Regions from separate parts of the Homo sapiens genome. Here all the other regions are linked to region 4. The links come from fine-mapping of genetic effects on gene expression. A gene starts in region 4. Each other region holds a variant in brackets. All regions are shown on one strand. Distances are from middle to middle. Region 1 overlaps FAR2 (fatty acyl-CoA reductase 2). Region 2 overlaps FAR2 (fatty acyl-CoA reductase 2). Region 3 overlaps FAR2 (fatty acyl-CoA reductase 2). Region 4 holds the start of ERGIC2 (ERGIC and golgi 2). Region 5 has its middle 230 kb from the start of FAR2.

Region 1 (5,106 bases), 210 kb before region 4:
AGACCTCATTCAGCCCATATTAACTTAGAATTGGTATAGATGGCTCCTTCCTGATTCTGTAAGTACTTTAAGGTTTGGCTGAGTGCAAACAGCTGGCACGTTTGAGCAGACCAGTTGTTAGGCAATTTTCCTAACCCTGCTTCTGCAAGAGTTTCCTTATCATTTACTGAATACCCATTGTGTCTTTTTCCCTTAATCGCCTGGGAGGAAACATCTATCTCCTGTCCTGAAGGGAGTTCCTCCTTGGTCTGGTCAGACCTTTGTATGGTAATTAAGATTTAGATCCCCTGTTAGGAAACCTGCTGGGTTAAGGATTTTTGTTAGGAAGGCTATGGGTTGTCAGTGGCCTCAGTGCTTTCGGGCTATGCCCTTGTTTACACTGACAACAAGGTGGTACTGGAGTACCACGGAGAAGACCTTCAATTATCAATTATAGGTTTTAAATTTACCCTGGCTTTTAAAGGAATAGGATACACTGTGTTTTCTTTAGTATTTTCATCTCTCTTTCTTTTTCTTTTTCTTCTTTGTCTCTCTCTTTCTGACTCCCTCTTTGTCTGTTTCTTCCTTTCTCTCTTTGACTTTCTGTCTCTCTCTTTCTCTCTCTCTCTGACTCCCTCTTTTTCTCTGTCTCTTCCTCTCTCTCTTTGACTTTCTGTCTCTTTCTCTGTCTCTCTGACTCCTCTTTGTCTCTGTCTCTTCCTCTCTCTCTCTCTCTCTCTCTGACTTTCTCTTTCTCTCTTTCCTTTCTGCTGGTCTTTCCCTGCCTCTGCTAGCCGCTTATGCTGCTGTTCTCCCCTCACCTTCCCCTTTTCGATGGCTTCGACAGTGTAAGACTGCCACCTCCTTGGGTTTTTGCACTGCGTGCAACAACTCCATGATTTCCTTGTGGTATTTAATGGGGGTTCCCCCAGAGGTTAGGAACTCCCTTTCTTTCCATATTGCAGTATGGGCATGTGGGATTAGATAAGCATACTTACTATCTGTAGCGAAGTCTCCCAGTGACAACTGAGGAGGTGGAAGAAATACCTGATTACAGGCTGTTCCAGGATTCCTCAGATGGTAACAGACCTTGAGGACAGCTGTCCAGGACAGGAGATTAACAATGAGAAAGCCATGCCAGTGTCCAGGAGGAAGTCAATTTCCTGGCCATCAATGAGCTGGTGCTTGCCCCAGGCACCCTCAGTCCTGTTGTTGGATCATCTGGTTGGGGGCTTCTGGCCCAGAGAACCTTTGTCCTCTGGGGCAGTGTGCTGTCCAGTGATTGCCTCGGCATAGTGGACATGGGCGAGGGGGCAGCTTGTTTCTCATAGGACAATCTTTTTTAAAGTGTCCTTGCATGAGGAGTGCCTCTGCCCGGCTGCTGCCCCATCTGGGAAGTGAGGAGCACCTCTGCCCAGCTGCCACCCCATCTGGGATGTGAGGAGCGCCTCTGCCCGGCTGCCCAACCATCTGGGAAGTGTGGAGCGCCTCTGCCCAGCTGCCCACTGTCTGGGATGTGAGGAGTGCCTCTGCCCAGCTGCCGCCCCATCTGGCAAGTGAGGAGTGCCTTTGCCGGCCTGCCAACCGCCTGTGAAGTGAGGAGCACCTCTGCCTGGCCGCCAACCATGTGGGAAGTGATGAGGGCCTCTGCCCAGCTGCTGCCCCATCTGGCATGTGAGGAGCACCTCGGACTGACTGCCCACCATCCAGGAAGTGAGAAGTGCCTCTGCCCAGCTGCCCACTGTCTGGGAACTGAGGAGCACCTCTGCCCGGCCGCTGCCCTGTCTAGTAAGTGAAGAGTGTCTCTGCCTGGCCGCCACCCCATCTGGGAAGTGAGGAGCGTCTCTGCCCTGCCGCCCAACTGACTGGTAAGTGAGGAGTGCCTCTGCCCGGCCGCCAACCATCTGGGAAGTAAGGAGCACCTCTGCCTGGCTGCCGCCCAGTCTGGGAAGTGAGGAGCGCCTCTGTCTGGCCGCTGCCTCATCTGGGAAGTGAGGAGCACCTCTGCCCGGCCACCAACTGTCTGGGAAGTGAGGAGCGCCTCTGCCCAGCCACCAACTGTCTGGGAAGTGAGGAGCGCCTCTGCCTGGCCACCAACCATCTGGGATGTGAGGAATGCCCTCTGCCCGGCCACCAACTGTCTGAGAAGGGAGGAGTGCCTCTGCCCGGCCGCCCCACCGTCTGGGAAGTGAGAAGTGTCTCTGCCTGGT[C/T]GCTGCCCCATCTGGGAAGTGAGGAGCACCTCTGCCCAGCCACTGTGCAACCTTCCAAGTGTTAAGTGACAGCCTTGTGTGTGATCTTTTCTGTCTTCCCCAAGTTTGCATTTTCGACATTAAAGTTTACTTTTTAATTAAAAGTTTAAAAAAAAAATAAAGTGTCCTTGCAAACCACACTGATAACAAGCCCTACCCGGTGATTGGCCTGCTCCATTTTCTGTCCTCTCTGAACCACTGAGGTTTGTTTGTCTGAGGGCCATGACTAAGGCTGCAGCCTTCCTCTGATCTCGCTTTTCCTTTTCGGCCTGTTCCCCTGGTCCCTATTATAGAACGCTGAGGTTGCCAGGTTTAATAATGCCTCCAGATTTTGTTCAGGACCCAGGGCTCACTTTTGGAGCTTTCTCCTGATATATGCAGCTGATTGGGTAATAAACTTATCTTTTAGGACCAATTGACCCTTGAGTGAGTCAGGTGACAGGGGAGTATATTTTCTTAAGGCCTCCCGTAGCCGCTCGAGGAAGGCAGAAGGATTTTCTTCCTTTCCCTGAGTTACGGTGGACATCATTTAATAATTCACGGACTTTTTCCTAATTCTTAGTCCTTCTAGAACACAGGTCAACAGATGTTTTTGACTCCAGTCCCCATGATCTGAGTTGAGGTCCCAGTGGGGCTCCATACTGGGGATGGCTTGCTGACTGGTAGGGAATTTGTCCCTTTCTTTGGCTGTCATTCTATCATTTACTTGACTAAGATACCAGGTATCTCCAAACTCTCAGGCTGCAGCTAAAGCTGCATTCTTTTAACTAAAGGCCAGGTTTTGATCTAACAGTAGCATGACTTCTCTCCAAGTGAGGTCAAAGGTTTGCCCTAGATCCTGTAGGACATCTGTGTACCTATCAGGATCATCTGAAAACTTCCATGGGTCTGCTTTGATCTGCTTTATATCAGAGAGGGAGAAGGGGACGTGTACCCGGGTTGGGCCAAATTCCCCTTCCCCTACAGCTTGAAGGGAACATAACCGATAGCCCGGGGGTTTTTGTGGTCCTTTGGAGATTTCCTTGCTTGTTTCCTTCTGGCCAGGGGAGATTAGAGGAGGCTTATCATTAATAGGAAGGGGAGCAATAGGGAGGCTAGGATATGGGGATAAGCTGAGAGGTCGTCTAGTGGGATGTAAATTGCAAGCTTTGCATAGTTGTGGATTCTCCTTCAATGAAAGGAAAGCTTGGACATAAGGTATTTCACTCCATTTACCTTCCCTCTTACAGAAAAGATCAAGCTGCAGGATAGTATTGTAATTTATACTTCCCTCAGGTGACCATTTTTCTCCATCAGAGAGAGAATACTGGGGCCAGGCCATAGTGCAGAAAAAAATGTGTTGCCTCTTTTTCAGGGTTTGCGGGTCAAATTGGTCCCAATAGCTTAGGATGCATTTCAAGGGTAAGCCGGTTGATACCTGAGTGTTTCCCACCTGAAAGACAAAACCGTCCGCAGTTTTGGTTTGTTTGTTTCCCCACACCCCCCCTACCCAAGAACCCGCGACAGTCCCTAGACCCTGCTGATCAGAATAGTTGCACTCACCTACGCAGCAGCAGAAACACTAGTTTTCCTCCTAGACCACAAGGAGGACTGAGGAAGGTTGGATTTAGTGGCCCTTACTAACACATTCTCAAAAACCTGCACCCTTGCCTGTCCTCTTAGACCACAAAGAGGACTGAGGAAGGTCAGATTTAGTGGCCCTTACTGACACATTCTCGAAAACCTGTTGGAGTCCTAAGCATTCTCCTGTTAGTATTGGGACTTTACCCCTGTCCTGTAAAGATGTTATGCCCCAAAAATGAAGTGGAGGGCCATACCCCGAGGGAGGGAAGTGATCTCCAGGGTTGGAGGAGTGATGCCTTTTGTCCTCACCTGAATAGGAAGGATATCATTTCTGAAGCTCCCCATATCCTAGCTTCAGGAATAGCTTTTGTTAGGCCTGCTAGTCTGAGGAGGGATCCTAACATTTCAGAGAAGATAGTCTGCCCCTCCCCCACCACGATGGGGCTTTGGGCAAAAAATATGTCTTTCTGATTGATGAGCCCGGGTGCCTAAAGAAGGGAATGGAGTCCTGGAGTTTATACTAGAAATTATTCTTATAGGAGAAACTGGAAAAGCACCAGAGACAGGGAGTGGTTTTTATTCTTTTTTTTTTTTTTTTTTTTTTTTTTTTTGTGAGATGGAGTCTTGCTGTGTCACCCAGGCTAGAGTGCAGTGGCACAATCTCGGCCTCCCCAGTTCATGCCATTCTCCTGTCTCAGCCTCCCAAGTAGCTGGCACTACAGGGGCCCACCACCACGCCCGGCTAATTTTTTGTATTTTTAGTAGAGACAAGGTTTCACTGTGTTAGCCAGGATGGTCTCGATCTCCTGACCTCATGATCCACCCACCTTGGCCTCTCAAAGTGCTGGGATTACAGGCATGAGCCAACGCACCCGGCCAGGAGTGGCTTTTAGAAGTGGAACTAGCCTCGGAGAAGAGAGGCGAGAAGAAGTTTGTCTGACAGGCGTTAGGACCCAGGAGGCAAGGGTCAGGATAGATAGGATAGAAGGGCAAGTCTCACTTGGGCGATGTGACTTTGAGAGTTCCACTCATGGCCACAAGGTCAACCAACTTGTTGTTGGGACCCCGAAGCTGAATGGCTTTCCTCTCTGGTGACCCTCGGCTCAGCCCAGAAGTACAGGAGATGTGGAACCTGGTTCCAGGCAAACCAACGCTTCCAACTCCAAAGAGTTGGGGGTTGTTAGAGAGCCCTTTCCCAGAAAGCCTGACACTCATGTCTTTAGTCTGGCAGCTGCACTAGTCACTTTCAACTGGCTGACAGGTGCCCAGTATTTAGCCCCCAAATTCTAAGGAAAAGTAGGACAGAATAGCAAGT
Region 2 (5,106 bases), 71 kb before region 4:
ACCCAAGCTGATCAGAGATTGGCCCAATATTTATACCTACACCAAGGCCTTGGGAGAAATGGTGGTGCAGCAAGAGAGCAGGAACCTGAACATTGCCATCATAAGGCCCTCCATTGTGGGAGCAACTTGGCAGGAGCCTTTCCCAGTAAGCCCACTTACCTGGATTCTGTGTTTTGCTTCCAAACTAAGGTTCTTCTAGTCCAATTACTTTCTGATGTCTTTCTTCTTCTCCTCCTCAGGATTTATAGCTAAGTGCAGCCAATCGAATATGAACCCATTATACTAGGGCAAAATTCCACTTTGGGTTCAGGATTTACCCAGCATGTGGCTCCTCTGGCAGTTATCTTGACTGCCCTAGAGTTGGACGGAGAGCTTAAATTAGCTTCTAACTACTCTAGTCTCAAAATTCACATGGGTGATGGTTTCATATCTTGGCTTTCCTACTATAGTTTAAGCATACCAGAATGTCCTTGATGGCCAAATTGGTAGTATTACAACTGCCAGGGTAAACAAGAGTTTCAAAGCTCACAGAAGGATCTCAGTTTAGGAATACTAATTTTTTTTAAACCTCAGTATACTGTCATGACCTTTTGAAAGTACTTTGAATTATACCATCTTCTTGAAAGCAAGTCTGTGAAGCTTTGGGGTAGATAAATTCCAGCTCCACTACTTACTGGTAATGCAACATTTTTGAGTTGTCCCTTCCATAAAACAGGACAGATACTATGGAGAGTTGATTTGATGAGACAATGTATGAGGAGTGGTCCCTACTAAAAGGCTCAACAAATATTAATCCCTTCATCTTCTCCTCTCTTCTCTCTCCTCTCCTGTTATACTCACACATTTGACTTTTATACTGTAACGTAAAGAGACATAATAAGGTCAGCTGAATGGCTTAGGTCTTAAGAAACAAACTTAAAAACACATTTCCCTCTAGCTGCTCTTAAATATAATCTCTGTAACATCTTTAAGTAAGTCAATATACACACAGACACACAGACACACACACACACACACACACACACACACATATATATATATATGTATATATATCTGGCATGGACTCTATAGCTGGTAAAAAATGTTAAGAAATGGGCCATTAACACAAATCATGTTTTCAATGTTCTCCTAAGGAGGCTGAAATCAGGACTAAGGTGGAGAAGTATGGTTGGTGAATTGCTTAGCAGATCATGATATAAGGACAAGGTCCAATTTAGTCCATAAGAGGTCATAAAACACCACAAAACCATTCATGATTCCTGCTAAGAAAAACAATCCTGGCAAAATTCTAATTTTTGCACAGTCAAATAAAGTACAGAAAATGGCCAATGCTTTGCCATTATCTTTTGAGATCTTAATAATACTGAATTAGATAGTTCTATTGGCTGGGATCTCAGTGCTCTTGTTTGAAATTTATTAAGATTAGACTGCAGATGTTCCAAAGATAAAACAATTTTCTGAAATGTGTAACCAATAGAAATCTTCTTTCTTTTAGGGTTGGGTTGATAATATAAATGGACCTAATGGAATCATTATTGCGGTATGTATAATGATGAAGAAATAACTCCCTGAAATGTAGTAGAGAAATAGTAACAAAATTCTTAGTGCTGGCTTAGCTTCATTGATCCAAAAACATAAATGTTACTTTACTAATAACTGAGGCATATTATTTTAATTGTTCTGATTGTAATATACAGGCAGGATGAAATTATTCTTTGAGAATTTTTTATCAGAAAAACAGAGGTAATGTGCTATCAGTTACTATTTAGGAGTTTTATTTTTGAAGTCTTTGAGCATCAAGGACTTTTCTTTAGTTACCACAAGATGGGGGTATTTCCTCCTTTTTGCAGTTTATAATCTCATGAATTAGTGCAGTGAATTGAGGATGCAGTAAAAATATCTTCAAAGATTATTAAATTCTTGATTATAAAACACATGTAAGAGTTTATGTGCGTGTGTAGAAAAGAGATATACATCAATAATTTTTAATGAATACAAGAAAGAGAACTACCAATTGGAGCAAATTTTTCAAATACAAAAATCCATGAATATAGGCAACATCTTTTCAATAATATCTTACCAGGAGAAACGTGGCTCCTCTAGGTAAGCAGCCCTTAGTG[C/T]GCATCTGCCCGAAGTCCAGATTGATCCAGCCAAGCTGTGGGGCTTCACAGCTCACACTGAAGCATTTAGGGTCTAAACCCCACTTCATTCTTCTGTACAATGAATAGGAAATCAGTGATCTAAATGAGTTTAAATTTTATTAGGGATTTAGACTGCGATTCAGACTCTGACTCTGTTCCTCCCAGAACTAGGTTCAACATGAATTGCAATACAGATATGAGACAGTGAATTATAACAGTGACAAAGATCTTCCTTCCGATTTCTGATTTTTCTAGCAGCCCCTTTCTTTCTGCTTCCCACCTGCCTTCAACTCTTTCTTCTACAAAAGTTCAGTTGGGGTGAACGTTTAGTGACTTAGAACATCATTATTTTAACGTGATCCCAAAACGGCTTTCATTACATGCAAAGCTACATATTTATTTACATTTTCTAAAATGTTCTAAATTGGTTTCTTATGTCCAAAAGAAGGGGAGCTAGTTATAAGAAAACAGAACTGAGTAACATAAGAAAGTGCTAATCGTTGCAAATCAATGTTGGAAACATGCAAAGCACAAAGAATCAATTTCATAAACTCAACCAATTATTAACATGAATAATTCCTAATTCTTGCATCTATATAACATCAGTGATCTGTGAGGTGAACTAAGATACTGAATAAAAAGTAAATAATAAGGCAATTTTTCCAAGCCAAAAAAAAAGTTTTCTTTTATTAATGGTGGAATTTCACCAATTAATGTTTTTCAAATAAGTATTTCTTAAACTTTTAGTGCCTACTATTGCTTGTAAGTTAATAAACCCTAGCAGAAAACAAAATCATCAAGGAAATGGTAAACAAATATTAATGGGAAAATTAATGGGAAATTTGTATAACCTTAATTCTTAACATGTCTTATGAATTAATTTTTAAGATGTAAAAGTTTATTCTTGGTGTTTGTTAATTGAGTTTATTAACCTCTCACAAATTTGAGGAATTTTATTCCCTAAAGGAACGTGAGGAACACTAGTAGTTCATGAAAATGCTGGAGACGCATGCACTTGGCTGGGAAGGTAGGATAGGCTGAGGAAGTCAGACTTAGCATAAGAACCTGGTAAGCAGTGGATCAATGTTAGCTGTTTTCACTTATTGCACTAGTATAACCAGTTTGATGATACATACTTTAGCCCCAGCTATTATTTAAGACCTGGTTTAATATTTTATGTTCTTTTTCCTATGCAGACTGGGAAAGGGTTTCTTCGGGCCATAAAAGCTACTCCAATGGCTGTGGCAGACGTAATTCCAGTTGATACAGTCGTCAATCTCATGCTAGCTGTAGGATGGTATACTGCAGTTCACAGGTGTGGATGCTCAAGTGGGCTTTCAAAGACTTCATGAGGGGCAGAGTGAATATATTAGGCCCATTTTCCAAATATAGGCATTTCATTGTACAAGACCCCAAATGTGTGAAAGTGCGTATTTCAATATTTTATAGAGTTCCTAATATGCCATCATATATGCATTGAGTTGTTTTATAAATACAGTTTAGTACTTGGCTACTCATAAAGTAATAAAACCTTTAAATCACTTAACCATAAAATTCTTGATAACCAAAAGGCTTTTCTTTCTATTCAGTAGTCTAAAATTCAGCTTTCTCTTTTAGGGCAAAGGAGATAGAAGCTGATGAAATGACAGAATTTTTTTTTAATTGAACTCTGGTAAATGCCAAAAGTTCAGTCACGATGTGTGGGGAAGCTTCCTGGTACAAAGGAAAAAAAATAGGTTGTTCATATATTTGGGTCTGTTAGTAAATTAAATTTTTCTTATGTGAACTCACATATATGTACTCCATAATATGTCACTCCTATTTAACATCTCTTTCACACACACACACACACACACACACACATGCTTTTCCTAGTCTTCTTCCATTTTGCTTATTAACCCAGAGAAAGAATGAACGATGGAAGCCTTTCATAGGTTGCCTTAATCAGATGAATTACTGAAACCACTCTGTCTAAATATTATTTTTCCTTATTTTTCTCTCATTAGTTTTCTATTTTGTTGTACTTATCTAATTTTTATTTCATTTTCCAGACCTAAGTCAACATTAGTCTACCACATTACATCTGGTAACATGAATCCCTGCAATTGGCACAAAATGGGTAAGTACTTTAGCTATGTAACTCTATAATTACTAGTGTCTGGCACAGAGAAAAAGTTGACAAAGTGTGTCATGGAGCTTAGAGCTTATATGGGGAGAAAGACAAAAAGTAAGTAAAGAGACAAAATAATGAGAAATTGTAAATGTGTGATAGTTAACTAGAATGTACTGTGGTTACCAAAGAAAGGAGTCAGTGGCAACATGTACAAGATTGTAAGCAGTAAGGGGTCCATTGGCTATAGCGATTTTAAAAATGATGAAACAAAGCAAAAGTTGGCAGTTATAAAGAATGTCAGTGATAAAATACTGAAATACTCCTCCCTGTTGGAGCAATGGCTCCTACACACACCCCTTCCCTTCTTGATATGTCACTGAGAATGCGACATCATCAATGACCAATGAGATAGAAAAGTTAGGTGATATTAATCCTTTGTTATTGAGTCCATCATACTGATCATTAATTTATGCAGCTTGCCTCTCAGGTGTGCAATAACCACTCCACTAGCGATTTGTAAAAGTGAATAGGAAGCACTATGGGAGAAATAAAAACAACACCCAGATTCCTTGAACCCTGGGACCAAGGTCTTGGGTGGTGCTGAGGAAACTATATGTTTAATAAGCATCTAGATGATTCTTGATGCTTGGTGAAACAGAGAAACCCTGTACTATACAAATGATTGATCTGTCTGAATGTAAAGGATTGGATCTGTTCAATGTATAAAACCATGGAAATAGAGTTGAGTACAACTTAAACATCTAATGATGGTAGAAAGTTAAAGTAGGGAGTTTGGCTATTCTGTAGGATTTCTTACTACCTACTAATGCACACTTTCTTTCCCTGTTACAT
Region 3 (5,106 bases), 92 kb before region 4:
CAAGCACTGTGTTGCCTTTAGCATTTATTGTAGAATATTATGTAAAGTGAACTAAAATTTTGTTAAATACAAAATTGTCTTTAAGAATAGCATAATATATGCTTAAATCTCTGAGGTCACAGAATACGATTTTAAGTGCAAAATTGTCTTTAAGAACAGCAAAATATATGCTTAATTCTCTGAGGTCACAGAATACGATTTTAAATGCAAAATTGTCTTTAAGAACAGCATAATATATGCTTAATTCTCTGAGGTCACAGAATACGATAGTCAGGTGGTTGGCATTTTAGATAAATATGCAAAAACACAATGACCCAGAGAGGTAAGTAACTTCCCCCAGTCACATAGCAAATCAATGGCAGAATCAGAATTCAAATATAATATTTCATGACTCCTAAGGGCCTGAGCTCTTTCCAATACACCAATGGTTCTCAACTTCAGGGTATATCAGAATTACTAGAGACCATGTTCAAAGAAAAGATAGATGCCCAAGCTTGGACTAATAACTGTTGAATGAGAATCTTCAGGGTCAGGACATAGGTTTGTTTGTTTGAGCAACTTCCTGGGCAACCCTGCTATATGCCGAAAGTTGACAGCCATACTACTACACCATGCTGCCTTATGGAGTTATAGAAACGGTCTTCGCTAAAGCACTAAAAACGTCTAGATTAATCCTTTACATCTTATGAGAGTTACTAGTGAACTAGCAACAATTTTAACATTTTGTGAATTTTTGTTAATCTGTACATTGGGTATAATGGTTTTTGCTTAAATTAACGAACTTATTTGTGTTTGTTTTCAACTTAAAGCTAATTTGCAGAATTCATTGATTTGTTTTTACTCAGCACTCTAAAAATTCTCTAAAAAAAATTACAGTGTCTCTTTCACCTTGGGACACCAAATATTCCACAGAGATTGCCCCTTAGTTTAAGCAACCTTACTCATTTATTTTCCAAAAAAAATTAAGCAAATTTTGGTGGGTTATTGGGACTACATAATGTAGTTATTTTTGAAGAGAAAGACTTTTTGAAGAGAAAGACGTAGTAAAATGATTAAAGATCAAAGATTCTCATGATTAGAAAAGATTAGATTACCTTCAATGAGCCCCAGGAAGTAGAGGGCAAATCTCCTGTGGATACTTACAAAATGAGGTCATGTGGCTAACTAGTTCATTGTAAGAGACCATGTTAAAGGCCTCTGGATTGTTTCAAAAGCATTATATAAATGTAATGCCCCCACCCCAATTCCTACTTCTAATAAAAATGCAGTCTTGATGTCTGACTACAGAAGTCATACCCAAGGAGTTTATTTAAACCAGACAAATTTTTTTTTCTGGTTTTCTCTTTCTGCTGAATTTTCTTACTTAAGAGTTTGCAGTTTCTCTGTTGCCTCTGGGCTACAAGTAACTATTCATATAATTAGAAGAGTATCTTATGTTTAAAAACAAATTAAGGAGAGAAATACTTGCCTGTGTAATGGCAAGTCAATGGAACACTCCCAAAGTTTCCAATCTGAAATGCTTAGATCACCTTTCAGCTGTATCTTTCAGTGACCACAGAAATGTGTCCTACTCTTGTAAAGAACAAGGTTTCCTAAAATGGATCAACAGCAATCCCTCTGCTTGAGTTTTGATGATGGTGAGCAGCTTTCCAACTATTTACCTCTCAGTCTTGTGCCATCAAGTAGAGAATATGAGTTTATGCAATGAGAAGAAACAGGATAAGCTCTTAGAATTTAAAATAATTATATTGTTCTTTATTGGTGGGCTTTCAATGAAATTTCTGAAATTCTGTTTTTTCTTTACTCATTTTGATTTCATCTATTTTTCTTACTTTAATCTCTCACATTAGCAACAAACACACCAAAAAGAAAATTTTTTTTAGAAGAGCTGGTGCTTATCCAGGTTCCATTTGCACCATTTCATCTTGTCCCTTCAGTCTTGTCATTATTATAAAAATAGAAGGTCTGCTATAAAGACTGGAGAAATTACATTACTTCAAGCTCCCACTGGCAGTTAATATAGAGGACTCAGGAAACACTTGTGTCCTCGTTTAGCAGTCGCTATCTGCTATCTCTCATCACAGTCATACAAACTTCAGGAATCAGGCTTCCATTCTATTGTAGTAATAGTTCTATTACTGATCTTACAGGAATTAATTTTAATTCAATAAGCAAAATTTGAGTCTTTTCAATGAATGGCATACTGTCAGGCATAAAGAGATGAATAAGAATCAAGGAGTTTACAAAGAAATTTTTTAAAAAGCCTTTAAAATAGCCACACATAAAATTAAATACCTAGGAATTAACTTGACCAGAGAAGTGAAAGATCTCTATAATGAAAACTATAAAACACTGATGAATGAAATTGAAGAGGACACCAAAAACTAGAAAAGTATTCCATGTTCATGGATTAGAAGAATCAATATTGTTAAAATGTCCATACTACCATCCAAAGCAGTGTACAGATTCAGTGCAATCCTTATCAAAATATCAGTAACATTATTCATAGAAATAGAAAAAAACAATCCTAAAATTTATTTGGAACCGCAAAAGACTGAGAATAGCCAAAGCTAACCTGAGCAAAAAAGAATAAAACTGGAGGAATCACATTACTTGACTTCAAATTATACTACAAAGCTATGGTAACCAAAATAGCATGGTACCAGCATAAAAACAGACACACAGACCAATAGAACAGAATAGAGAACTCAGAAAAAAATCCACACACCTAC[A/T]GTGAACTCTTTTGACAAAGGTGCCAAGAATATACACTGCAGAAAAGACAGCCTCTTCAATAAATGGTGTTGGGAAAACGATATCCAGATACAGCAGAATGAAACTAGACCTCTATCTCTCTCCATATACAAAAATCAAATCAAAATGGATTAAAGACTTAGATCTAAGACTTCAAACTATGAAACTACTACAAGAAAACATTTGGGAAAATCTCCAGGACGTTGGTCTGGGCAAAAATTTATTGAGCAATACCCCACAAGCACAGGCAACCAAAGCAAGAATGGACAAATGGGATCACATCAAGTTAAAAAGCTTCTACACAGCAAAGGATACAATCAACAAAGTGAAGAGACAAGCCACAGAATGGGGGAAAATATTTGCAAACAACCTATCTGATAAAGGATTAATAACCAGAATACATAAGGAGCTCAAACAACTATACAGTAAAAAGTATAATAATCCGATCAAAAAATGAGCAAAATATTTGAATAACCATTTCTCAAAAGAAGACATACAAAAGACAAACAGGCATATAAAAAGGTGCTCAACATCACTGATCATTAGACATGCAAATCAAAACTACAATGAGATATTATTTCACCCCAGTTAAAATGGCTTATATCCAAAAGATAGGCAATAAAAAATGTTGTCAATGATGTGGAGCAAAAGGAACCCTCATATGCTGTTGGTAGGAATGTAAATTAGTACAACCACTACGGAGAACAGTTTGCATGTTCCTCAAAAAACAATAGAAATACCATATGGGCCAGGTGTGGTGGCTCATGCCTGTAATCCCAGCACTTTGGGAGGCTGAGACGGGTGGATCACTGGAGGTCGGGAGTTCAAGATCAGCCTGGCCAACGTAGCGAAACCCCATCTCTACTAAAAATACAAAAATTGGCCAGACATGGTGGTGCATACTTGTAATCCCAGCTACTCAGGAGGCTGAGGCAAGAGAATCACTTGAACTCAGAAGGTGAAGGTTGTAGTGAGCCAAGATTGTGCCACTGCACTCCAGCCTGGGTGACAGAGTGAGACTCTGTCTGAGAAAAAAAAAAAAAGAAAGAAATACCATATGATCCAGCAGTCCCACTGCAAGGTATATACCCAACAAAAAGGAAATCAGTATCTCAAAGAGGTATCTGCACTCCCATATTTGTTGCAGTACTGCTCACACTAGCTAAGATTTGGAAGCCACCTAAGTGTCCATCAATAGATGAATGGATAAAGAAAATGTGGTACATATACACAATGGAGTACTACTCAGCCATCAAAAAGAATGGGATTCAGTCATTTGCAACAACATGGATGGAAATGGAGGTCATTATGCTAAGTGAAATGAACCAGGCACAGAAAGACAAACATTGCATGTTTTCACTTATTTGTCAGGTACAAAAATCAAAACAATTGAACTCATGGACATAAAGAGTAGAAGGATGGTTACCAGAGGCTGGGAAGGCAAGTGGGAGGGGGTGGATGGGAATGGTAAAGGGTGGCAAACAATAGAAGAATTAATAAGACCTACTATTTGATAGCACAATAGGGTGACTATAGTCAATAATAATGGTACATTTTAAAATAATTTAAAGAGTATAATTGGATTGCTTGTAACTCAAAGGATAAATGCTTGAAGGGATAGATACCCCTTCTCCATGATGTGCTTATTTCATATAGCATACCTGTATAAAAACATCTCATGTACCCCATAAATATATATACCTACTATGTACCCACAGAAATTAAAGAAAAATAGAAAGAGTTTCCCTACAAAAGAAAAAAAGAATCAAGGAGTTTACAAACTAGAGGGGGAAATATAAGCCCTGAATTTAAGAACAGACATGAATTTTTCAGAGTCAGTGTTTCCCAATTATGGTACCTGGACCATCAGATCCACCTGCAGAGGCGGTTAAGAAATACAATTTCCTAGGTTACACACAAAACTACTGAGCCAGGGTCTCTGAGGGTGGAATAAAGAAATAATTTTTAACCAGGTTCTTTGATTTTTCATGCCTACAGTTTGAAAGCTACTGATGCGAAGATTGCTCTGGGCAGTTATAAAGGGAAATGAGTTGTATGCAGTTATTCATCTGCAATGGTCCGTGTTTGCACTCTAAATGGAGAAATTCTCATCATTTGCATGCCTTAAAATCAATTGGGGGACTTGGTGTGAAATACAGATTCCTGGGTGTGCCCTAGTAATTTCTTATTTAGTGGGTATGGGATAGGACCCAGGAATATACATTTTAATTATGCTACTAGTGATTCCAATGCAGTTCACTTTGTGGACAGCGTTATGAAAAGACCAAAACCACTGACCTGTTGGATTCCAGTTGGCTGCCATCTCTGTCACTCTATTCAGGACATGGCACTATT
Region 4 (5,106 bases):
AAATAAACCTAATGACATTCTAAGTGACAGAAAGGTTTACTTGGAAGCCAAGGAAGACAATATAAATGTGAGTTTATAATCAGAAAACCCTGATTACCTAGGCACTTACTAGTTGTGTGACAAGTGTGGAAAGATACTCAACTTCTTAGAATCCTCTCTCCATAATTTTATTTTAAAAGATGGGCAGCAGGACATAATGGCTACCTCACAGTGTTAAGATAAAAATGAGGCATGTAATATCTATTTCTAATTCTCTGAAAAAAAGCAAAGATTTGTAGGATATTTGAGATTTAGTTGTTAAAGTCTTTGAGGAAAGTGGGAGAGTATGTGAGGTTAGTTGACAATCTCCTGAAGTTAGGATGGCATAAACTGATAAGACTAAAAGTTAAGAGAGACTATAGAGTGATAACAGAATAACCTTAAAAGTGCCTAGTAGCAATGTGAAGCAAGGACAAGTATAATCCTCCTCAAAGAACAACTAGACTATAGTAGCTCTCAATAAAAGTATAGAAAATTAAAGTTAAAAAGTATTAAGGAAAAGGTCAGGGACACATGAAATATATTTACAATAGAATGAATGTTCTCAAAAGCAAAGAGTATGGGGGTTAATAAGGCACTCAGAGGGTAGATCTGAGCCACACTACAACGTGACTATATAGAGCAATAGAAAGGAAGAACTTATGCTTTAGTCATTAAAAGAGGATAATAATTTAAGAAAACAAGCAACTGGATAATGGGAGTTTAAGGACACATTAACCACACCAATCAGAGTGTTTAATCAATCTGGAGTTCAGAAAGATATTATTTTAAACAATATCTTCTTCAGTCTACATTTTGACTAAGTAACAAGGCAACATTTGTAACTACAGATGTTAGAAAATGAAAATAAAAAATAACAAGAGCTAACATGCATTGAGTGTTTACTGTGTGCCAGGTATTGTTCTAAATGCTTTGTATGTTTCAACACATTCAATCCTCACAACCTTCCTATGAGTTAAGTATCATTATTTCATTTGGCCGATGAAGGAACTAAGGCACAGAGAGGTTAAATAATTTGACCACTATGACATTAAGAGGCAGAATTACAATAAATATTGGGAAACTATTAAATAGGATTTTTAGCAGGCACTGACTGCCTAAAAGTAACTTCTGGTAAAGAAAAAAAAAATAGCCATTTCTTTCACTTAAATCATCAATCCCCAAAGAAAGAAAATGTGTGGGTGGTTGTTGTTGTTTCCCTAACTCTCGTTGTTCCAGACTAGGCCTGATTTCCTTTGAGAGATCTTTCAAACTTGATATATTTTTATGATTTGTACCAGGAAGCCATTATAACACGCAACTGTATACTAAAGTTCACCATCATTTAAAAAAAAAAAAAAAATCCTCCTCTCTCTATCCATCCCTGCACCGCCAACCCCCACCCTCCCAAAAAATCAGAATTTTTTTCCTCATGTTTTCCACTAGAACTGGCATAATTACAACAACTTAAAGATATCAACAAACAAATTAGGTAAATAACCATGTCTTTTTTCAGTGAACAAGCCAGGCTCATTCTTTATAATTGCTGTATACTGGAGTCCAATGTATCAGGCTAGGCAATTAACTGAAATACTGAATTACAACTTCAAATGAATAAATCCTGTTTTTAACTGTAACTTTCATTGCTTCTGAAAACCAGTCTGGCAACATTTTAACAGCTATTATGCCACTTTGTCTTTAAGTCTCGGGGGCACTAAAATATAAAAGTTATTTAAACGTGTTTTCTCAAACAATGACCTGTCAACTCTATATACTACAGATAAACAAGGCTATTCTCCACCACGAGTTGACACGTTGCCTTCGGAAGGTTTCCTGCGCCGAGGAAAAGTAGTGACAGTCGAACCTGTCTCTCAGCATCTCGCCCTCCCCCGCCCCCTTCTCATTTTCCGAAGCACTGTGCGAAACTCCTTCCGGGCAAGGCCAAGACTCTTAAAGAGACAGAGGGCAACGTGCTGCCACGAATGTGGCATTTGTCTGAATGGGGGTAGGGAGTCTGACATCCGGGAGGACTGGGACTCGACCGATTGGGATCCTACTCGCCTGCGGACTGGAGAAACCACCTGGGAACCGGGCACTGTGACAAGCAAAGGGTCAGAATCAGGTGCGATCGAGGAAGCACCTGAACTCCTTCGAGTTGCAGGATAGCACACAAGCACCCGGACCTGGCAAAGGGAAGCTCCCAGTAGCATCGTTGCCTAGGGTCCTGCCAGTAACGCCCCCGTGGGAGGTGGAGCGGCTTCTCCGTCCGACCGGCTCTCTAGAGATCAATGAAGACAGGAAGCCAAGCCCATGACAGGCTCCCAGTTCCCTCAATTGCATTTACGCCCTAAACAGCCCTGGAACAACCGAGGGAACAGCACCCAGCGGTGTTTCAGTATTTTACCTTGTGTTATGGTCCCAGCCTACCGCCATGTTTCACAGAAGCCCGGGTCGCCGGGGCTCCCGCGTACCCGGAAATATCGCGAGAACAAAAGCGACTATCACAGCTGAAAACGTCAGAAAAGAGACAATGTACAGATCTCGCGATATTCCCTTTGCTTACGACGTGCTTAGGGAATGAAGAGGCGTGGTTAAGATAAAAGAGGCGTGCCTACAGGGAAATGAGGTTGCAACTTGTTTTAGGTGTAATCGCGCCGCCAGTCCGGTTCTGTTTCTATGGGAAGGGAGGGGTTACTTTCCGACTAACACTGAGACTGCAGAACGAATCTCAGCTCCTCACACCGTATTTCATTACTAATAAGAGCCTTGGGCGCAGAAATTATCCCTAACAACCCTAATGCATATCACCTGTGCAATTGTTTTGTTTCCCTCTTTCAGTTTTTGTGTCGTTTTCCCCTGACAAGAACATTTGAGCTTCCTTTTCCGCCATAGGTAACGCTTTTTATTATTTGATCAGCGTTTTTATTGTCTTCCAGGTTTTAATATCATAAGAAAGCACATATGTCTTCCTCATCTCCCTTCGCCAACACCAACTATGCCTTCAAATATTTGTTAAGAAAGAAAATTAATACCTCATCTTTTTCTACCACTTCATAGAACAGGAGTTAATAGACGGAACTTCGGAAAGAAAAGTTAAATGTGAACTCCTGGAGAGTAAACCCATTCCAGGTTCCTTTTCACCCATCTGTTACCAGATTTTATAATCAAACATTGAGATTTAAATTTTCTGATTCATTGACCTAGAAGTCTAACAACGGCATAATTATGACAACTGCTTATAATTACTGTTTAAAGGCTTTAACTGCTTTTTTAAAAAATCTGCGTATCCTCACAACACTCTTAGAAGATAATACCAGTATTTACCTGTTTTATAAATACGGAATTTGAGTCAAGGGGTAGTGAAGTGATTTACCCAAATTCAGACCGCTGGGAGAGTCAGGGAAATCTTGATCACAATACTAAACTGTGCCTCAAAGGAAAAAAATCACATTGTTTTATGTAGTGAATTAACCTTTACTGAAATACTAAATTTCACTAAATTGAATATCCCCCAAAATAAGGACTGATGAAAAGTTTCCAATGAATCAATTTTATTTTCAGACTTTCAGAGTTAGTCTAATTAAATCAATTTAAAGTTCTCACTTTCTTGACATGCTTAAGAAGTATAGTGTAGTGGGTGAAATCATAGACACTGGAGACAGGACTTCCTGGGTTAGAATTCCAGATCAGCAACTTACTAGCATGTAACCTTGACCACATTATTTCATCTCTTTGTGTCTCCATTTGCTCATCTGTAAAATGGGCATGATAATATCTCAGAGTTGTTACGAGGATTAAGTAAATTAATATACATCTAAAATGCCTTTTTTTAATCTTTGCCGTAAAGGCATCAGCAACTCTTCCTTCTTTGTGAATATGGGCTCTTGCTTGGATGGAGGCTGGCTGTTGTTCACTTAGTTACATCTGATCCCTCATCTCCTGGATAACCTACTTTCAGGGTAACAACTATCCCATGAGAGTTGGATTTCCCAGTGTAGCAAAACTGACTAATTTGATCCTTCTTATTTAGAAAACAACTCACCATTTTCTAATCTACCCAGTGAAGAGGGAACTTAATTTCCCCTGAAGATTGAAACTCTCGGGCTGCAGCTAAAGCCGCATTCTTTTCATTAAAGGCCAGGGTTTGATCTAACAGTAGCACGACATCTCTGCAAGCGAGGTCAAAGGTTTGCCCTAGACCCTGTAGGACATCTATGTACCTATCAGGATCATCTTTAAAAAGAGATAGATACTTAATCTTGTGTTATCAGTGGCGTTATGTCTGAAAAACAATTTGCTTTAAAAAGTCCATTATGTATTACCCGCATAAGATAGGTTTTAGACTGAGATTAATAATTGTTCCATAACAACCTGTATTTAGTAAAGATGATCAAAAGGTGTTTTTGTGCCATTTTTTTCTTTCTCTAGTTCGATTGAATAATTCATGGGCTTTTTTCTAATTCTCCTTAGTCCTTCTAGAACACAGGTCAACAGATGTTTATGACTTCAGTCCCCATGATCTGAGTCAAGGTCCCAGTGGGGATCCATACTGGGGATGGCTTGCTGACCAGTCGGGAATTTGTCCCTTTCTTCGGCTGTCATTCTGTCATTTACTTGACTAAGATACCAGGTATCTCCAAACTCTTGGGCTGCAGCTAAAGCCGCATTCTTTTCATTAAACGCCAGGGTTTGATCTAACAGTAGCATGACATCTCTCCAAGTGAGGTCAAAGGTTTGCCTAGACCCTGTAGGACATCTGTGTACCTATCAGGATCATCTGAAAACTTCCCCAGGTCTGCCTTGATCTGCTTTAAATCAGAGAGGGAGAAGGGGACATGTACCCGGGTTGGGCCAAATACCCCTCCCGCTATAGCTTGAAGGGGACATAACCAATAGCCCGGGGTTTTTTGTGGTCCTTTGGAGATTTCCTTGCTTGTTTCCTTCTGGCCAGGGGAGATTAGAGGAGGATTATCATTAATAGGAAGGGGAGCTATAGGGAGGCTAGGATATGGGGATAAGCTGAGAGATCCTCCTGTGGGATATAAATTGTAAGCTTTGCATAGTTGTGTATTCTCCCTCAATGAAAAT
Region 5 (5,106 bases), 460 kb before region 4:
AGACACCAAAGTTAAAGAGGGAGGAAGCTGGGAAGCCTATACAGAGTGACTGAGTGCGAGGACTGGCTCTCAGTCTTAAACAAGTCCTAAGGGTGAGTGAAGAAACTCCAGGGCACAACGCTCCTGATATGGATCTCTGGAATCCTGAATATCACAAATCCTACAACCACCATACACATTTGAATTGGCAAGGGGAACTGCCCAGAGAGTAGGCAGAGGCAGAACTTCAACTCCCACAGAGCCCAGAAGATTTAACATGTGAGGCAGGTACAGTGAAACACAATCATAGGAACCCATCCCCCGAGGCTCTCCATCTTGCTCTGAGTGACTCTAGCCTCTGCTAACTTCCTGGCAGGGATGCCTTTCCCACAGGATGGGGGAAAATCTGATCTGCATTCCCCCTCGTTTGTCAGCTCCTCCCAAGGCCCTTGCCTGGCTGCTCCTGCAAGAGGGTGCACACAGCACAGCCTCCACTGACCTGCCTAATTAATTTACCAACAGCCTGGGAGCAGTTTGACTCCTCCAGCATAGGCAATGCTTAACCCCAAGGCGCCAAAGAACAAAGATGCAGACCTGGTCCCAACCTCATAGGAGCTGAGCACACTGCCTAAGGGAATTGAGCTGAGATCTGTGGTTTGAGATAGATCAGGACAGCAACCCCCATCTTAGAACATGAGGAAGAGTGAGGCATGGGTTCATATACCAGTGCAGAAGCTAGGCATCCATACCTCTGCAAGTCTGGTCCAGAAAGAGTGTAGCCTGTTGCCAGCTGCAGCTTCTGCCTGAGGGAGCCTCATGGCTCACAACACGAGAAACAGCCCAGTGATCTGGGAGCAGAAGGTTTGGGACAAAACTAGCTGGTTAGACCTGCTCCCAGGGCAGACACTGGAGGCAGACTTAGTGTGGGAGTATAAGCTGGGCAGTTCCCACAGCCATCTACTGAGAGAAAAAAAGCTGGGCCACAGTTGCCACACTAGCTGCACACCTGCAGCGCCACCACTCTGCCCAGGGAATCCTCTACTCTTGACCCACTCTATCACCAGACTATCTGCAGACACACCCCGCAACATGCTTCAACTCTGCCAAGCACAGAGGACCAGCAGGTCCTTGGGTATTGTGGGTCTCCTGGTGACCTGAACATTGGCTTGGGCCAGCCATAAGAGAAAGGAGAGTGCAGTCTTCAAGGGCACCTCTTGGGGCTAAGAAAATGTGGGTGCAACACCAGTGATTACAGGGATGTCCCACAAAGCCCACCTGGGAACAGATTGGTGAGGGAGTTGTCTCTTGCCTCCCCATCTCCCCTCCACATGGTATTGTTGCAAACAAAATAAAATACAAAAGAGGTGTGCAACTGAGTAAAAGCTTATCTGTTGGCTCTTACTCTTAATCACCATCTACTGGATTGCAGCCTGAATGACACCACCAAACAGAAATAAATTCATTCAGCACTTATCACATGTGAAAACCAGTGCAGGAAACTAACCACAATTAAGGAAACTACAGAGACTTGGTTCTCTCAAAGCACCCAGAAACAAAGCCAAGTGACTATCTACAGTATACACCATAGTCAAACGCTCAAGGGATAAAATAAAATGAAAACAAAAAGCTTCATCCAAATGGCAGCAACTTCAAAAAGATAAAGAAACACCAGCCCTCTGAGATGAAAAGGAATTAGCAGAAGAACTGCAGCAATTCAAAAAGACAGAGTTTCCTTACCTCCCAAGGATCACACTAGTTTCCAAAAAAAAAATGGATCTTAAGCAGATTGAAATGTCTGAAATGACAGACATAGAATTCAGAATCTAGATGACAAGAAAGTTCAACAAGATTCAAGAAAAAGTTGAAATCAATGAATTCAATGAAGCCAGTAAAACAATCCAATAGCTGTAAGATGGAATAGTCATTTTAGGAAAACCCAAACTGAACTTCTGGAATGAAAAAATTTACTACAGGAATTTCAAAATAGTTAGAAGTCATAGCAGCAGACTAGA[C/T]CAAGCTGCAGAAAGAATTTCAGAGCTCGAAGATTGGTCCTTCCAGTCACTCAGTCAGACAAAAGTATTGAAAACAAAGTTTTTAATGAGCAAAACTTTAGAGAAATGTGGGATTATATAAAGAGACCGAACCTGTGCCCATTGGCATTCCTAAGAAAGAAGAAGAGAGAGTAAGCAAATTGGAAAACATACTTGAGAATATAGTCCACAAAAGTTGCCCCAATATCACTAGAGAGGTTGACAAGAAAATTGAAGGAATTCAGAGAATCCTTGTACTATACAAGATGACTGCCCCAAGAAACAAAGTCCTCAGACTTTCCAAGGTCAACATGAAAGAAAAAAACCTTAAAGGCAACTAAAGAAAACAGTCATATTACTTATAAAGGGCAAAGGGAACCCCATCAGGCTAATAGCAGTCTTAGCAGAAACACTACAAGACAGAAGAGACTGGGGGCCTACTTTCAGCGTCTTTAAATAAAAGAAATTCCAATAAAGAATTTTCATATTATCCCAAACTAAGCTTCATAAGTTAAAGAGTAATAAATCTTTTCCATACAAGCAAACAATAAGAGAATTTATTACCATGAGATCAGCCTTATGAGAGATTCTTAAGAAAGTTCTAACATGAAAACGAACAATACCTACTACCACAAAAACATACTTGAATACACAACTCATAGACCCTATAAAGCAACTACACATTCAGGATTACAAAGCAACCAGCTAACAACATCATGTCAGGAGCAAAACCTTACATATCAATATTAACCTTGAGGGTAAATGGTCTAAACACCCCAATTAAAAGACACGGAGTGGCAAATTGAATGAATAAATGAGACCCAATCCTCTGCTGTCTTCAAGAGACCTATCTCACACGTTACAACACCCATATCCTCAAAGTAAGGGGAGACTTTACTTTGACACTATGGGTGTTGTAACATGTGAAAACAAAAAACAAAAACGAGCAGAGGTTGCTATTCTTATATCGGGGAAAAAAATACTTTAAACCAACAACAGTAAAAACGGGTAAAGAAGGGAAATTACATAATGATAAAGTGTTCAATTCAACAAGAAGACATAAATATCCCACATGTATATGCACCCAACAATGGAGCACTCAGATTAATAAAACAAGTATCTAGACCTATGAAAAGGTTTAGACAGCCACACAATATTGGTGGGGGACTTCAATACCCATCTGACAGCATAAGATAGATTGTTGTAGCAGAAAAATTAAACTAAATATCTACAGAGTAATCCACCCAACAACCATAGAATATACATTATTTTCATCTACGAATGGAACAATCTGTAAGATTGACCACATGCTCAGCCATAAAGCAAGTCTCAATACGTTCAAAAAAATCGAAATTATACCAAGCATACACTCAGACCACAGTAGAATAATAACAAAGACCAATACCAAGATGATCTGTAAAAACCACACAATTACATGGAAATTAAACAACTTGCTCCTGGATGACTTTTGGGTAAACAACGAAATTAAGGCAGAAATTTGAAAAATGTTCGAAATAAATGAAAACGGAGATACAATATACTAACATCTCTGGGATGCAGAAAAAAAAAACAGTGTTAAGAGGAAAGCTTATAGTACTAATTACCTAAATCAAAAGTTAGAAAGATATCAAATTAACAATCTAATATAACACCTAGGGGAACTAGAACAAGAAAAACTAACCCCAAACATAATAGAAGAGAAGAAATACCTAAAATTAGAGCAGAAATGAAAAAAATTCGAACCCCAAAATTCATACAAATGATCAACGGAACCTAAAGTTGGTTCTTTTAAAGGATAAAATAGGTTAATATATCGCTAACTAGATGAACAAATAAAGAGAGAAGATCCAAATAAGCACAATCAGAAATGACAAGGGCGATGTTACAACTGACCTCACAGAAATACAAAATATCCCCAGAGACTATTATGAATACCTCTATGCATACAAACTAGAAAATCTAGAGGAAATGAATAATTTCCTGGAAACACAGAATCTTTCAAGATTGAGAAAGGAAGAAATTGAAATCATGAATAAATCATTAATTAGCTCCAAAATTGAATCAGTCATAAAAAACATACCAACGGCTGCTTGTTGTGGCTCATGCCTGTAATCCCAGCACTTCAGAAGGCTGAGATGGGTGGATCACGAGGTCAGGAGTTCGAGACTAACCTGGTCAATAAGGTGAAACTCTATCTCTACTAAAAATACTAAAAATTAGCCAGCCATGGTGGTGCATTCCTGTAATCCCAACTACTCAGGAGGCTGAGGCAGGAGAATCACTTGAACCCAGGAGGTGGAGGTTGCAGTGAGCCAAGATGATGCCACTCTACTCCATTCTGGGTGACAAAGTGAGGTTCCATCTCAATAAATAAATAAATAAATAAATAAATAAATAAAAACACCAACCAAAAAAGCCCTAGATCAGATGGATTCATAGCCCAATTCTACCATATCTGCAAAGAGGAGCTGGTACCAATCCTACTGAAACCTAAAAAATTGAGGAGAAAGGACCCCTCCCTAACTCATTGTATGAAGCCAGCATCACTCTGATACCAAAATCTGGCAAAGATACAAAAAAGAAAATTACAGGCCAATATCTCTGATGAACACAGACATAAAAAAATCCTTCAACAAAATACTAGCAAACTATATCCAGCAGCAGATCAAAAAGTTAATTCATCACAATCAAGTAGGTTTTATTCCTGGGATGCAAATTTGGTTCAATATATGCAAATCAATATGTGACTCACCAAATAAACAGAATCAAAAACAAAAACTACATCATCATCTCAATAGATACAGAAAAGCTTTAGATAAAAGCCAACATACCTTAATAATAAAAATCCTCACCAAATTCAGCATACAAAGAAAATACCCCAAAATAATTAGAGCCATCTGTGACAAACCACAACCAACATTATACTGAATGGGCAAAAGCTGAAAGCATTCCCCTTGAGAACTGGACCTGGACAATAATCCCACTCTCAAAATTCCTATTCAAGGTAGTACTGGAAGTTCTAGCAAGAGAAATTAGGCAAGAGAAATAAATAAAAGTCATTCAAATGGAAAAGGAGAAGTCAAACCATCTCTCTTCA

Evidence for each region. PIP is the estimated chance that this variant, and not a neighbour inherited with it, causes the effect. A credible set is the group of variants that fine-mapping cannot tell apart.
Region 1: its variant is the best candidate, but not a certain one, in a credible set for the expression of ERGIC2 in whole blood (INTERVAL, PIP 0.61).
Region 2: its variant is the best candidate, but not a certain one, in a credible set for the expression of ERGIC2 in whole blood (INTERVAL, PIP 0.62).
Region 3: its variant is the best candidate, but not a certain one, in a credible set for the expression of ERGIC2 in whole blood (INTERVAL, PIP 0.51).
Region 5: its variant is the best candidate, but not a certain one, in a credible set for the expression of ERGIC2 in whole blood (INTERVAL, PIP 0.53).

What each region holds. Positions count from the first base shown.
Region 1 is chr12:29,170,051-29,175,156 of GRCh38, forward strand. The region is part of intron 1 of FAR2 (fatty acyl-CoA reductase 2); the gene reads left to right. Among named protein-coding and RNA genes, the nearest start is that of FAR2, 23 kb to the left of the region's middle. The variant C/T (reference allele first, on the strand shown) is at 2,190.
Region 2 is chr12:29,307,691-29,312,796 of GRCh38, forward strand. FAR2 (fatty acyl-CoA reductase 2) reads left to right here. Exons shown (of 12, transcript NM_001271783.2): 5 at 1-145; 6 at 1,496-1,540; 7 at 3,338-3,456; 8 at 4,193-4,260. FAR2-AS1 (FAR2 antisense RNA 1) reads right to left here. Exons shown (of 7, transcript NR_103860.1): 2 at 2,081-2,213; 3 at 160-354. Among named protein-coding and RNA genes, the nearest start is that of FAR2-AS1, 7.6 kb to the right of the region's middle. The variant C/T (reference allele first, on the strand shown) is at 2,121.
Region 3 is chr12:29,286,667-29,291,772 of GRCh38, forward strand. All of the region lies in intron 2 of FAR2 (fatty acyl-CoA reductase 2), which reads left to right. All of the region lies in intron 5 of FAR2-AS1 (FAR2 antisense RNA 1), which reads right to left. Among named protein-coding and RNA genes, the nearest start is that of FAR2-AS1, 29 kb to the right of the region's middle. The variant A/T (reference allele first, on the strand shown) is at 2,733.
Region 4 is chr12:29,378,693-29,383,798 of GRCh38, forward strand. ERGIC2 (ERGIC and golgi 2) reads right to left here and starts at 2,480. Exons shown (of 14, transcript NM_016570.3): 1 at 2,423-2,480. RefSeq lists an enhancer at 2,043-2,212.
Region 5 is chr12:28,914,358-28,919,463 of GRCh38, forward strand. No RefSeq gene overlaps it. Among named protein-coding and RNA genes, the nearest start is that of FAR2, 230 kb to the right of the region's middle. The variant C/T (reference allele first, on the strand shown) is at 1,992.